Linked DNA regions of Homo sapiens. The protein of the gene in region 1 purifies or fractionates together with the protein of each later gene. This does not show direct contact. Each region holds a gene or a part of one and is shown in the gene's direction. Other genes may lie near its edges.

Region 1 (4,372 bases):
CCTTAAGTGTACAGTTGGATGAATTTTTACATAAGTATACACCCTTGCAACCACCACCAAGATTAAGACACAAAACAGTTCCAACTTCCCAGAAGGCACCCCACTTTGAGCGGCATCATCACCTCCCATAAATACCTGCCCACCGTGCTCCCAGTGTGACTTAATAGCAAGCACCCATACACTCAGCCTCTACACACTCAGCATCCACACACTCAGCCACCCTGGGGCCTCTGTCCCCATCCAAGCCCTGTCTACTCTCCCTCACTTGGGTCCTCCATTCCTCCTCTCCTGCCCTGTTGTCTCAGCCTGGACTGGTGCAGTGGCCTTCAGGCGCCCTGCCCTCCAGCTGCTCCCTGGTAATTCTCTGCCACTGTTACCACCTCTGCCTCTTAGAAGATGGCATGGTCATTCCGTGATTCTTGGAAATTTGCAGGGAGTAGCTGTTGGCCCAGCTGGTCCCTGTGTCTCTTGGAGGCTGGGTGCCAGTCAGCTCGAAACCTGTTGGCTGATTGCGTGCACCCTGAGGACCCCACAGCCCTTCCTGGGGCCCAGAAGGATGAGAATGGTGAGGGAAACAGTGTGCTGTGAGGAAATGGCCCCAGGAGTCCCAGAAACATTCCCCCATAAAGAGAGGATATGACCAGTGGAGAAGAGAAGCGAGAGGAAGAAGCCCAAACAAAGGGCGGGAAATGCCATTCTGAGTGGGTAGCTCCTGAGAAGGAGCTGTTGGACAAAGGACACATGTGAAAGTGGAAACAATTTAGGGCCTCCCTCCTACAGAGGAACATCCTTCTTGGCCCCCAGGGCAGAACAGAAATGCAGGCTCTCAGGCCAGCTGTGAAGAGACAGTTTGCAGTTAACATTTGCCAATGCTTTCTCTATTACTTAGAAAAAGTTAGTGAGTGACCCTCCAGGGCTCTCAGCTGGCTCATTTTTATTCTTTCATCACCTCTGATCCTAGTTGCCCCTTGTCGTAGCTCAAGCTGCTATTTTAAAAAACAACTATAGACTAGGTGGCTTGAACAACAGAAATTTAGTTCTCACAGTTCTAGAGATTGGGAAGTCCAACATCAAGGTGCCAGTAGTTTTGATTCACTGGTGGGGACTCTCTTCCTGGCTTACAGATGGCCGCCTTCTTGCTGAGTCCGCATGTGGTGGAGAGAGCGAGAGCTCTGGTTTCTCTTTTTCTTATAAGAGCACTTCACATCCTGACCCTCACTCATGACCTCATCTCAATCTTATTACCTCCCAAAGACCCCACTTTCAAATTCCAACAATTGAGGATTAGGTTCAACATACAAAATTTGAGGGTACATATTGAGTCCATAACACCCTGCCTCCAGAAAATGTTCCCTGAACCATGCCAATAAGCTGGGTTGGGTGCCCCTGCTCTGTGCTGTGACATCCTGTACTATGACTACCTGATTACTCATCTAGACTGTGAACCCCATGGGGGCAGGAACCATGTCACATTCACCACTGTATCCCTGGTTCAGGGCCTGACACATACTTAGCAGGTGTTCAATAAACCTTTGATCAATGGTGGGATGAATGAGCAAATGCCTGAGCAGGGAGAGAGCCTTCTTATAGCCGCCCTAATGTCCTATTCTAGATTCCTTAGGTCCCCTCCTCTCACCTCCTGCCTTTGTTGTGGAGGAGGAAGAAGACAGGGAGAAGGAAGAGGAGGAGGAGGAAGAAGAAGAAGAGGGAAGGATGTGTTTGAGTTGCTTTATGCCTTCACTTAAGGCTCACTGTCCTTAGGGGAACCTGAGCTGTTCACTAGGGACAGACACATTAGTGGCTTGGGCAAGTGGTGCTTTGGGATTTTATTTTTGGAAGGAGGGGGGATGGAGGAGGATCAAACCACTTTTTTTTTTTTTAACCAGCAGGAGAGCAAAGGGAGAAAGCTCTAGGCTAAAGGCCAGAAGACCTAGCCCTGCCAATAAAATCAACCTCATTTTGTGAATGCCTGTTGTGTGCCAAGGACCCTGCTAAGTGCTTTGCTTGTACGTAATCCTCAGAACAACCCTCTAAAGGAGGCATGATGAGTACTTTTATCATCACCCTCCCCATTTTACAGATAAGCACACTAAGGCACAGAACAGTTAAAATTCCTGCCAGGAAAGACTCAAGTCAGACCTTTCTGATCCCCAAACCACTCTGCCTGCTAGGCCCCGGGCTGCGGCTTCAGGATGGGGGCTTGTATTCTCTGTGACTCTGCTACACCTAGATGCTCCCACTCCCACAGTCACCCTGGTCATTTCTAGAAGGCAACAGCAGCAGGATTTGACACATGCCCCACATTAGGCTAAGAGGTCTCAGGAGAAATGGGGGCCTTTGGCACAAAGACTATTGGCAGATAATCCAGGGCTGGGAGGAACTTATTGGCAGGAAATAGCCTGCACTGCACCTGCAGGAGGAGTGAATCTTCAGTGTTGGTTAAGGAAATGCAGGCTGGCCGGGCACAGTGATGTGCACCTATAGTCCCAGCTAGTCAGGAGACTGAGACAGAAGAATCACTTGAGGCCAGGAGTTCAATACCAGTCTGGGCAACATAGCAAGACCCCATCTCTAAAAACGGACAATCAAACTAAGAAACTATGTTTCCATTAAAGCATATTATTTAGTTACATAACAGTAACTACCAAAAGAAGCAGCCCAAACTATTCCCGTGATTGTTTCTGGGGAGTAGATTTGGGGGCCAATGAGCTGTGATGGAGGACACTTACTTTTCATGACTTTTCCAATGGTATTAGTACTTTAAACCAAAATTTTACTTTTTTAAAAAGCAAGTATGTCAAGGCAAAGGATCCTTCTCACTTATAAATGTGTATAAAAGAAATTTCTTTTTCCTCCCCCTCCACTCCTTCTATTTCTGCCCTATTTTTTTCCAGGAAGAAAAAATGCTGGGCATCTTGGTGCAGCACAAAGTCCGGAGTGGCGTCTCGGGCATCGTGGGCATGGAGGTGGATGGGCTGCCCTTCCACAACACCCACGCCGAGATGATCCAGAAGCTGGTGGACGTCACCACGGCACAGGTGTAACCGTCCATGTTCCGTGTGAGCAGAGTCCCTACCAACGGGCAGGTCTGCATCCGGGGAGAATGCAGCTGCTTCTGGCGACAATCCTGCTAGTAAACACTGGTCTTCGGTGAGCAACGAACACTCGCCTGGCCTGGGAAACTGCATGCCCACTTTCTGGGAGGGGTTAGTGCAGGTGCTGTGGACAAAGGACAACATTTCTCTGGGGCTTTTTAACTTTTATTCCTAAGACTCTAAAGGCGTTGATTTCAACCCTCCTTCACTCTGGCTTCTTCAGGCAACCCACGTGGTCTCCTGTGAGAATCTTCTCGACAGTTACTTATGGGGACACTTGTGAACAATTAACTGCCAGGCAGAGCATGAGAACAAACATTCCCAGGCCATGTAGGATAGGATACTCCAGACTCCAGTCATCCTCCCCCATCCATGGTTTCTGTTACTCATGGTTTCAGTTACTCATAGCCAACTGCAGACCGAAAATACTAAATGAAAAATTTCAGAAATAAACAACTCTTAAGTTTTAAATTGTGTACTCTTCGGAATATCGTGATGAAATCTCACACCATCCTGCTCCATCCTACCTAGGACGTGAATCCTCCCTTTGTCCAGGGTACCCGTGCTGTCTACACCACCCGCCTGCCAGTCACCCAGCAGGTGATCAGATCGACTGTCATGGTATTGCAGTGCTTATATTCAAGAACCTCTTATGTGACTCAGTAATGTCCTCAAAGTGCAAGAGCAGAGATGCTGGCAATTTGGATATGCCAAAAAGAGGCCATAAAGGGCTTCCTTTAAGTGAAAAGGTGAAAGTCTTTTTTTTTGTTTGTTTGTTTTTGCAGTTGCAAGATTTAATAGAGTGAAAACTGAGCTCCCATACAAAGGGAGGGGACCCAAAGAGGGTAGCCATTGCTGGCTCGAATGCCTGGGTTTATATCCCGATCATTGTCCCTCCTGCTGTGCTCTCAGGCGATAGATGATTGGCTATTTCTTTACCTCCTGTTTTTGCCTAATTAGCATTTTAGTGAGCTCTCTGATTGGTCGGGTGTGAGCTAAGTTGCAAGCCCTGTGTTTAAAGGTGGATGTGGTCACCTTCCCAGCTAGGCTTAGGGATTCTTAGTTGGCCTAGGAAATCCAGCTAGTCCTGTCTCTCAGTACCCCCTCTCAACAGGAAAACCCAAGTGCTGTTGGGGAGGTTGGCTGACAACTGCTCTAACTGCTTCCTGCTGAATTGGGGCGTAGTAGGGGTTGTGCAGTTGAGATTTCCTCGGGAGGGGTGCCTTCGATGTCATCAACATCGGAGCATGGGCTAGCAGGCCGGTCCAGGGGTCCAT
Region 2 (3,812 bases), on another chromosome or scaffold:
GGATTCAGAAATATCAGAGGGAAACTGAGGACAAGGCGCAGCTGGGAGGACTCAAGGTTGCCAGCCTGGCTCAGCTCAGACAAGGTCCCTCTCAGTCACCCTAGAGCTGAGGTCCACAGTCTGTCATTTGACTTTGAATAGGTTTTGCTCTAATTTTCCCCCATTCTTCTGACACCCTAGGATATCAGAGCTGGAGTGGACCCCAGAAAGATTTTCTTCAGCTGCTTTACTTTCCCTAAGAGGAAATGAGCCCAGAGAGGCCAAAGGAATTGCCTAGCTCCTCATAGGGAAGAGACAGTGGAACTGGAACCAGAACCGGGACTCAGGGGAGACTCTGTCCTAAGCCCAGTTACCAGCCCCAGCCAAGCGCTGTCCTTCTCAGGTGGCCACTGGCACCTAGAAGTTCAGGCTGGCAGTGTGTTAGGAGCAGGCTGGAGAAGCAACTTCTGCATCCACAGGATGGGGAAGATAGGCCCTTTATCCACACACACACACACACGTACACACAGAACGGCCCGTGGCGTGGGCCGCTGGATAGGCATCAGTCTGAATCTCTCCATACCCAGAGGCAGCCTTTGCCACTCAGCATTGCCATGAGGGCTCACTGACTTTACTGAGAACATAACATTTCCAAGGATTGAGGAGAAAGTTTAGAAAGTAGATTTTATTCTGGAAACCACAGGAAATAAATCAATCTAAAGATCTGCTGGGGTTTTGGAGCAGTGGCTCATGCCTGTAATCCCAGCACTTTGAGAGGCTGAGGCAGGTGGATCACGAGGTCAGGAGTTCAAGACCAGCCTGGCCAACATGGTGAAACCCCCCCGTCTCTACTAAAAATACAAAAATTAACTGGGCGTGGTGGCACACGCCTGTAGTCCCAGCTACTCAAGAGTCTGAGGCAGGAGACTTGCTTGAACCCGGGAGGCGGAGGCTGCAGTGAGCCAAGATCATGCCACTGCACTCCAGCCTGGGTGACAGAGCGAGACTGTGTCTCAAAAAAAAAAAAAAAAAATCTGCTGGGGCCAGGCGCGGTGGCTCATGTCTGTAATCCCAGCACTTTGGGAGGCTGAGGCAGGTGGATCACCTGAGGTCAGGAGTTCGAGACCAGCCTGGCCAACATGGTGAAACCCCATCTCAACCAGAAATACAAAAAAAAAAAAAAAATTAGCCAGGCATGGTAGCAGGCACCTGTAATCCCAGCTACTCAGGAGGCTGAGGCAGGAGAATCGCTTGAACCTGGGAGGCAGAGGTTGCAGTGAGCTGAGATTGCACCACTGCACTCCAGCCTGGGCGACAAGAGCGAAACTCTGTCTCAAAAAGAAAAAAAAAATCTGCTGGAATGGTACATCAGGTGAGGGCTCTGCAGGAGTCTTGGGGCAATGCTGAGGCCTTGATGTTACCAGGTCCTGAACTTGCCCCAGGCCCAGGGCAGAGTTAGAGCTTGACTCAGCTGTGGCTCTGCGCAGTCCTGGACAGAGTGCAGAAGGGGAGTTGAGGCTGAGAACCTGGGTTTAACCAAAACTTGGACTCCTAGAGCACATTATAAGAAAAACAGAACAGGCCAGGCGCGGTGGCTCACGCCTGTAATCCCAGCACTTTGGGAGGCCGAGGCGGGTGGATCACGAGGTCAGGAGATCGAGACCATCCTGGCTAACACGGTGAAACCCCGTCTCTACTAAAAATACAAAAAAAAAATTAGCTGGGCATGATGGTGTGTGCCTATAGTCCCAGCTACTCAGGAGGCTGAGGCAGGAGAATGGTGTGAACCTGGGAGGCGGAGCTTGCAGTGAGCCCAGATCGTGCCACTGCACTCCAGCCTGGGCGACAGAGCGAGACTCCATCTCAAAAAAAAAAAGAAGCAGAGCAAAGCCTGTTGAGTACGTTGCACCTCTCACACAATGGCCTGGCTCTGTAAATCATGCAGGGGACATATTCTTGCCCATGTTATTTCATGCTAGAGCTGTGTGTTTATCATCAGTCATCAGCACCAGCTCTCCAGCCAGGTGGAGGAAAGCTCAGGCAGGGGGTGGATGGCCCACCAAGCTCTGCCTCGAGGGCTTCACCAAAAAGTTCTCCCCCCAAAAGCCAGGATGAAATCCTGGATGCTGTGCTGTGGACCCAGCAGTGCCAGAGACAGCCCCGAGCAGCTCCATGCATAGCATGTTTGCTGTGTCCCTGGCTCTCATGCTCCCCTGGTTCTTTCCTTTCTTTGGACAGTATTACACAGTTTTCAAACCAAATTGTAGTGTATTTTTGCACTTCAAAAACACTGATTGTTGGTCCTTTGGAAGCTGGAACGCTGAAATTCCGTCCTTCTCATCCTCTTCCGTGGCGTTTATTGGCCTAGTGAAAGGAAACACTCTACACTCCCTAGGTTGTCCATGCTTTGTGCCTTATCTTTCCTGCCCACAAGTGGTAACCCTGGGTGGTGCAGCTGCCTCGCAAAAGGAAGAGCACATTTTGGATTGTGGCAGCCTGTCAGGAGGAGCATGTGGTCAGATTGGAAGCCATGATCTTTTCCTAATGGTCTTAGCAACTTTCCTTTGTGCTGAATGATAATATTCAGACCTTTGGATTGTACAGTACTTCAAGGATATATGGGACCATGGCTGCCATGACTTAATAATTGAAATGCTTTTGAATCATGTTTATTTTAGGAGGTTGTGGGGCGATGTATGAAATTAAAATTGAATCAGAAGAATTTAAGGAGAAGAGAACTGTCCAGCAGCACCAGATGGTTAATCAGGTCAGTAGAGGCAACAGTGCCCCTTGCCACTGGCCTTCAGCCTCCAAAGGGGCCTGCCAAGCAGGGATGGTGGTTTTTGCCGTCAGTTGCAGGAGAGAATAATGCAGTACTGCAATCACGAAACAGGACTCAAGACCTGAGAAAAATCGAATCTGGGAGTATCTGCATTGTGGCAAATAGGAATTTTATTCAAAATTGAAGACAGGCCTCCCAATAGTGATTTTGTATGTCCTCGTATAATGCTACCTATGTTTACTGTTATTGTCACATATTGATGAGTATATCTAAACACAGACACTGCTAAAAGATACATGTTTTTGTAGATCTGAAGAGGGGTTTTTTGGCCTCTCTTTGGGACTGCTTTACAGATGAGTCAGTTGATGCATGGCATGAGTGAGAATGGCTGCAGCTGCCCCAGACCCAATGACAGAACATTTGGGTTCTGGAACATCACGTTCAACCAGCCTAAGGCTCAGTTTAAATATTATCCATATTTATTTTAATTTGGAATTTATACCAACTTTGACCCTTGTACCTGTACCTATGAATTTGCCCCCTCACTGGGTGTGTTTGGCATCGTTCTGGAAGGTCTTGCCATTGTGAACTAGTGTTATTTTTGTAAAGCACAGCACTGGTAATGAGCGTCTCTTCGGTGGCCTCTCATGCATTGAGTTCAGGTGTCCTAGACTGCTGTTCACGCATTTCCCCCCACCCTTCTCTGCGTGCACCCTCCCAGCCGGCCTCTGCCCGCTGGTCTCTCTCTTTCTCTATCTGGGCCTTTGCCCAGATTGGACCTTCTGCCTGGGTTGCCCTTCCTCCCGTCCTCCACTCAGCTCAAATGCTGCCTCCCCTCCCTCCCCAGCAGGGAATGAATGCCGTTCCCCCACCCTCCCCGGCCCCCTTTTTTGGCTGTCGGTGTTTTCCGTCTTGTGTCCTGAAAACGGACATCTCTGCTGTCTGACCCTGCAACCTGTCAGCCCTTTGTGGACCAGTGCCCTTTGGGATCCATCTTTGTGTTTCTCATGGAACGTAGCCCTTTGCAGTGGATGTGACCCCTACAGCCCTA

What was found.
Region 2: the proteins of DGLUCY (region 1) and BOLA3 purify together in Homo sapiens (affinity purification with mass spectrometry; one large-scale study listed by BioGRID and IntAct). This does not show direct contact.

What each region holds. Positions count from the first base shown.
Region 1 is NC_000014.9:91,221,790-91,226,161, forward strand, and holds the end of DGLUCY (D-glutamate cyclase, mitochondrial isoform b precursor), read left to right. Parts: intron 1-2,894; coding exon 2,895-3,044; 3' UTR 3,045-3,843; downstream 3,844-4,372. UniProt on the Homo sapiens protein: D-glutamate cyclase that converts D-glutamate to 5-oxo-D-proline.
Region 2 is NC_000002.12:74,141,206-74,145,017, reverse strand, and holds part of BOLA3 (bolA-like protein 3), read left to right. Parts: intron 1-2,657; coding exon 2,658-2,746; intron 2,747-3,812. UniProt on the Homo sapiens protein: Acts as a mitochondrial iron-sulfur (Fe-S) cluster assembly factor that facilitates (Fe-S) cluster insertion into a subset of mitochondrial proteins. Probably acts together with NFU1.